Linked DNA regions of Homo sapiens. The protein of the gene in region 1 purifies or fractionates together with the protein of each later gene. This does not show direct contact. Each region holds a gene or a part of one and is shown in the gene's direction. Other genes may lie near its edges.

Region 1 (2,794 bases):
TCTGCCAGTGCTCACACACCAATCTCTCTAGCCCTCAGTACAGTCCTGCAAGAGGGGGGTCATGAGGCCCATTCCACAGATAAGGAAACTGAGGCCCAAAGTCTGGGCATGCTGCGTTGCTCTGGGAAGGTGATCTGCAGGGTAAATGGAGTGAGGGCAGGGGGCCGAATGGGGAGAGGCTGGGAGCCGAGGAGGTAGGAGTCATTGTGCCCTCAGAGCCAACCACCTGATTTCTGCATCTGTCAAATAGTAATAGCCCCTTCCTATGCCTCAAAGGATTTTTTTCAAGAATGAAACTGTAAAATTCACTTTAAAGTGACATGATCCGTTCCCGGAGGGACAGGGGAATCCCCAGTGCACCATACACCAATAACCCCTGCTAAGGCAGCAGTATTAATTGCTCAACCTTCCGCACCTGTGCACTAACTGCTCACGTTGTTCCCACCCTACCCCACCCAGGACTATGCTGTGGGGTACATGTTGAGGCTGGGGGCTCCTGCCAGTAAGCTGGTGATGGGCATCCCCACCTTCGGGAGGAGCTTCACTCTGGCTTCTTCTGAGACTGGTGTTGGAGCCCCAATCTCAGGACCGGGAATTCCAGGCCGGTTCACCAAGGAGGCAGGGACCCTTGCCTACTATGAGGTAATGGAGTTGGGGAGAAGGTAGGATTCCCCCACACCACCAGCAGCCCTGGGGAAGGTGATTCCCCACCACGTTCTTGCTTTTTCTCCTTTGGGAATAAAGAAAATGTCCGGTTGCCCCAGCATGCCTGAGGAAGTGGAAGGGAGAGGTTAGGACATTTGTTGCTGAAAATCTCCAGCAGGTACAGGCACATGGGCCTGCACCACTAGGCACCTGGGATAGCCCTCTGGCTATGGGGCTGAGGTCTTCCTTCCAGCCCAGGAAAGAGCAGAGGTCAAGAGGCAGATTTTTTGTTTCACTCTAGCCTCTGCTACTCTGTGTGGCCTTGGGCCTGTCCTCAGTGTCAACCAGCAGGCCTCACATCTCTGTTTAAATGGAAGAAGCTAAGCAGGGCCAAGGCAGCCACCATCTCTGGGTCATTTGCCTCTGGTTTGTATAAACTTGTGTGATGCATGCAGCCTGCAGACCCTGCAGAGAGTGAGGCTGCAGGATGGAGCAGGAGCTAAAAGAGATTTGGAGAGTGGCGTCTCCTGGTGACCTGCAAGGTCTCGGCACGACTCCCCACACTGCCTTTTCCCTGTTATCTGCTCAGATCTGTGACTTCCTCCGCGGAGCCACAGTCCATAGAATCCTCGGCCAGCAGGTCCCCTATGCCACCAAGGGCAACCAGTGGGTAGGATACGACGACCAGGAAAGCGTCAAAAGCAAGGTAGGTTTCCCCAAGGCCACACCTCAGGACAAAGAGAAAGAAGGAGGCCCCGCTCCCAGCAGCCAGATTCCTGTCCCTTGCACTGAGGTCTGGGCTGGGCTCACAGAGCACATGTGCCCTGTACACACTCTGGGTCAGGGAACCCAGCCCTGCTCCTCTGGGCCTCCCCTGCCAGGTGCAGTACCTGAAGGACAGGCAGCTGGCGGGCGCCATGGTATGGGCCCTGGACCTGGATGACTTCCAGGGCTCCTTCTGTGGCCAGGATCTGCGCTTCCCTCTCACCAATGCCATCAAGGATGCACTCGCTGCAACGTAGCCCTCTGTTCTGCACACAGCACGGGGGCCAAGGATGCCCCGTCCCCCTCTGGCTCCAGCTGGCCGGGAGCCTGATCACCTGCCCTGCTGAGTCCCAGGCTGAGCCTCAGTCTCCCTCCCTTGGGGCCTATGCAGAGGTCCACAACACACAGATTTGAGCTCAGCCCTGGTGGGCAGAGAGGTAGGGATGGGGCTGTGGGGATAGTGAGGCATCGCAATGTAAGACTCGGGATTAGTACACACTTGTTGATTAATGGAAATGTTTACAGATCCCCAAGCCTGGCAAGGGAATTTCTTCAACTCCCTGCCCCCCAGCCCTCCTTATCAAAGGACACCATTTTGGCAAGCTCTATCACCAAGGAGCCAAACATCCTACAAGACACAGTGACCATACTAATTATACCCCCTGCAAAGCCCAGCTTGAAACCTTCACTTAGGAACGTAATCGTGTCCCCTATCCTACTTCCCCTTCCTAATTCCACAGCTGCTCAATAAAGTACAAGAGCTTAACAGTGTGTTGGCGCTTTGCTTTGGTCTATCTTTGAGCGCCCACTAGACCCACTGGACTCACCTCCCCCATCTCTTCTGGGTTCCTTCCTCTGAGCCTTGGGACCCCTGAGCTTGCAGAGATGAGGCCGCCATGTCCTCTGCCTAGCCGCAGAGAGCCCCAGTGGGAGGCCAGCGTCCTCAGATTCACCTGCCTTGGACTTAACCCAAGCATGGCTGATGGCCTTCCAAATATTAAAGTCATTGCCATCCAGATTTCTAAATTAAATTCCCTGTTGAAAGAAACGTTTTCTGTTTCCTGAAGGCTAGCAGGCCCTGGGAAAGAAGGCTTTTCATCCCAACACTCCCTCTCTTCTGATCCACAGGAAGGTGGTGGGAGCTCATCACAGGACCAGGTTAGAAAGCCCTGAACCCTGGACCCTCAGGGCCAGCAGGAAATGCAGATGTCATCTCATGCACCCTTCCTGCCTCTCGGGACTGGAGTCCCTGCAGAGTGCTTGAGAGATGGCCCTCCAGCCTCCCAGTGAGGGGCAGCCGATTACCTTGGAAGCAACCCATTCCGTGGCTGGGCTGAAATCTGTCAATAGTCCTAGTGCTGGGCTTAGCCCTTTGTTCTGTTCA
Region 2 (3,657 bases), on another chromosome or scaffold:
ACTGGAGTAAAAGTGACTCTTGTTATGTATTAGCAAAGGTACTGGCAACATTTTGCCCCTGCCCTAGAGATTTGTGGAACTTTGAACTTCAGAAAGATGATTTAGGGTATCTGGCAGAAGAAATTTCTAAGCAGCAAAGCACTCAAGAGGTGATTTGGGTACTGTTAAAGGCACTCAGTTTTATAAGGGAAGCAGAGCATAGAAGTTTGGAAAATTAGCAGCCTGACTATGCAGTAGAAAAGAAAAACGCATTTTCTGTGGAGAAATTCAAGCTGGCTGCAGAAATCTGCGTAAGTATCAAGGAGCCTAATGTTAATCCCCTAGACCGTGGGGAAAATGTCTCCAGGCTATGTCAAAGACCTTCATGGCAGCCCCTCCCAGCACAGGCCCGGAGGCCCAGGAAGGAAAAAAGGTTTCGTGGGCCCGGCCCAGGGTCCCCGCGCTGTGTGCAGCCTAGGGACTTGGTGCCCTGTATCCCAGCCACTCCAGCCATGGCTGAAAGGGGCCAACTTACAGCTTGGGCTGTGGCTTCAGAGGGTGGAAGCCTCAAGCCTTGGTAGCTTCCATATGGTGTTGAGCCTGTGGGTACACAGAAGTCAAGAATTGAGGTTTGGGAACCTGTGCCTAGATTTCAGAAGATATATGGAAACTCTTGGACGCCCTGGCAAAAGTTTGCTGCAGGGGTGGGGCCCTCATGGGGAACTTCTGCTAGGACAGTGTGGAAGGGAATTGTGGGGTCAGAGCCCCCATACAGAGTCCCTACTGGGGCACTGCCTAGTGGAGCTGAGAGAAGAGGGCCACCACCCTCCAGGCCCCAGAATGGCAGATCTGACAACAGCTTGTACTGTGTGCCTGGAAAATCCACAGACACTCAATGCCAGCCCGTGAAAGCAGCTGGGAGGGAGGGTTTACCTTGCAAAGCCACAGGGGTGGAGCTATCCAAGACCATAGGAACCCACCTCTTGCATCAGTGTGACCTGGATGTGAGATCTGGAGTCAAAGGAGATCATTTCGGAGCTTTAACATTTGACTGCCCCGCTGGATTTCGGACTTGCATGGGCCCTGTAACCCCTTTGTTTTGGCCAATTTCTCCCATTTGGAATGGCTATATTTACTCAATACCTGTACCCCCATTATACCTAGGAAGTAAATAGCTTTCTTTTGATTTTACAGGCTCATAGGCAGAAAGGACTTAACTTGTCTTAGATGAGACTTTGGACTGTGGACTTTTGAGTTAATGCTGAAATGAATTAAGACTTTGGGGGACTGTTGGGAAGGCATGATTGGTTTTGAAATGTGAGGACATGAGATTTGGAGGGGCCAGGGGCAGAATGGTACAGTTTGACTGTGTGCCCACCAAAATCTCAACTTGAATGATATCTCCCATAATTCCTATGTGTTATGAGAGGGACCCAGGGGAAGGTAATTGAATCTTGGGGGGTGGTCTTTCCCATGCTATTCTCATGACAATGAATAAGTCTCATGAGATCTGATGGGTTTATCAGGGGTTTCCGCTTTTGCTTCTTCCTCATTCTGTCTTGCCACTGCCATGTAAGAAGTGCTTTTTGCCTTCCACCATGATTCTGAGGCCTCCCCAGCCATTCTGCAACTGTAAAGTCCAATTAAACCTCTTTCTCTTCCCAGTCTTGGGTATGTCTTTATTGGCAGTGTGAAAACAGACTAATACACTGATCTTTGATGCCTTAACTCTTGTATGTTCAACTGAAGAGATACAATTGTGGAGGAGAAGAAACATAAGATTTAGTCAGAAGACCTGTTCTGTAACTAGCTATGTGTCTATGTACAGATTGTATAGCCTCTCAAAACTCCTGTTTCCTTAATTGTAAAAGAGGGAAAACTTACCAAATTACTTTCTCTAATGAGATTGTGTAAAAACTTCAATTCATAAAATATGAAACAAAGAATGGCTATTTACTATTTATTTAGCACAGTGCCTGCCTGGAACATAGTAAGCTTTTAGTTTAAAAAGATTTTTGTTTAACCAATACTTAATTTATGTAGTGTTTACTAGGTGCCAGGCACTATGTACCTTGTAAATGTTAATTAAGTTAATCCTCATAAAAGCCCTAAGAAGTAGGTAGTATCATCATCCCTATTTTACAGATGAGGAAACCTAGACACTGAGAGTCAAGTAACTTCTCAAAGTCAGATGGCTAAGTGGGAGAGATCTGGGATCTGAACCCAGGTCATCTGGCTCTAGAATCTGTGTTCTTAACTACACCACACTACCTTTCAAATGTTAAATGAACATGGATGGTCTGTCAGGGAAGGACTTGCTTGTAGCATCAACCTGACCAAATAGAACAGGAGGAATGGTAGCTCATAATTGCACATTTCCAGTTGAACAGTGAGACTCAGAGTATTAGAAAGTAGTAACTCTAAGCCAAAAATTAGGAGTGTGGGGGAATTTAACTTTGAGTCCTAGTATCTTTTGGTGTTCTGGTAGCACTCCTGTATGGACAAAAATCCTCTCTATCATAAGTTGTAAAATAAGGCTTAAACTGTACACATAAAACTTAAAAGTTTGGCTTCAATAAACAGTATCTATTTTAACTTGTTCATTTTTGTCTTCCTTTCCAGGTATTTTTTTTTCTGAAGGAAAGCTGCTTCCTCATATGTTTCAAGAATGGCTCTCCCTATCATTGTAAAATGGGGTGGACAGGAGTATTCAGTGACCACACTTTCAGAAGATGATACTGTGCTCGATCTCAAACAGTTTCTCAAGACCCTTACAGGAGTTCTTCCAGAACGCCAAAAGTTACTTGGACTCAAAGTTAAAGGTAATTCTCTCCCCTCTTCAGATTTTTTGCATTGAATTTTTAGTATTATGAATTTTAATAATTATTTTGAATATAATTGTTTAATAATTTATACTTGCTATTTGTAGTTTAGTAAGTCTCTCCCTTTCGAGATTTCTCTGGTAGAAATATTCTTAAAATTGTTTTAGTGGTAAAAGTAAGAATATTAAAGTGTTCTCGAAAATACCATGATTATTAAGATTACTTTTGATGTTTTAGACAGTCAGTATTTGCTTGTTAAACCTTTGGCACAGAAGTCCCGGATGAAACTCATTTATTTTCTGACATCTACCTTTTAGCACAGTGTTTCGTTGTAACGAGGGCCTCGTACTCTTCCCAAATTATCTTTTCTGTTTCAAAAGTAAAGACAACATTTAAAAATTACAGGCAGCATTCATATCCAGTTTAAAAGGGATTTTTTTTATGGTGTTTTGTGATTATCATATTGAAGAGTGAGTTTTGAGTAACAGTAAATCTGCAGTTTTCTTAGGCACTCAATTTTTAAGGCTTCCTGGAAAACAGTAATATTCATCTTGAACAACAGAATAAAACATGAATTAATTTTGTTTAGGTAGTTGAATAAAGGTGTTCATCTAACATAGAATTGGGGAGAAAATAACCCTTGTATTAATTTTGACTTCTTCGTGTCTTAGATATGACTAATTCAGCAGAAACAATTTGTTAATGTAGGAAAAAACAAAACAACAAAAATTGCTGTGACATCTGTACCAAACCTTTTAATGTTAGGGTTTTATATAATGGAATAGTGAAACCAGCACCTGAACTTTAGTGAGAAAACAGTCATTTGCTTGTATTGTAGGCAAACCTGCAGAAAATG

What was found. Proteins that work in one complex are often made in the same cells at the same time.
Region 2: the proteins of CHI3L1 (region 1) and UBLCP1 purify together in Homo sapiens (affinity purification with mass spectrometry; one large-scale study listed by BioGRID and IntAct). This does not show direct contact.

Annotation. Positions count from the first base shown.
Region 1 is NC_000001.11:203,178,318-203,181,111, reverse strand, and holds the end of CHI3L1 (chitinase-3-like protein 1 precursor), read left to right. Parts: intron 1-459; coding exon 460-642; intron 643-1,234; coding exon 1,235-1,351; coding exon of another isoform or gene 1,352-1,526; coding exon 1,527-1,667; 3' UTR 1,668-2,181; downstream 2,182-2,794. UniProt on the Homo sapiens protein: Carbohydrate-binding lectin with a preference for chitin. Has no chitinase activity. May play a role in tissue remodeling and in the capacity of cells to respond to and cope with changes in their environment.
Region 2 is NC_000005.10:159,266,269-159,269,925, forward strand, and holds part of UBLCP1 (ubiquitin-like domain-containing CTD phosphatase 1), read left to right. Parts: intron 1-2,601; 5' UTR 2,602-2,647; coding exon 2,648-2,801; intron 2,802-3,639; coding exon 3,640-3,657. UniProt on the Homo sapiens protein: Dephosphorylates 26S nuclear proteasomes, thereby decreasing their proteolytic activity. Recruited to the 19S regulatory particle of the 26S proteasome through its interaction with 19S component PSMD2/RPN1.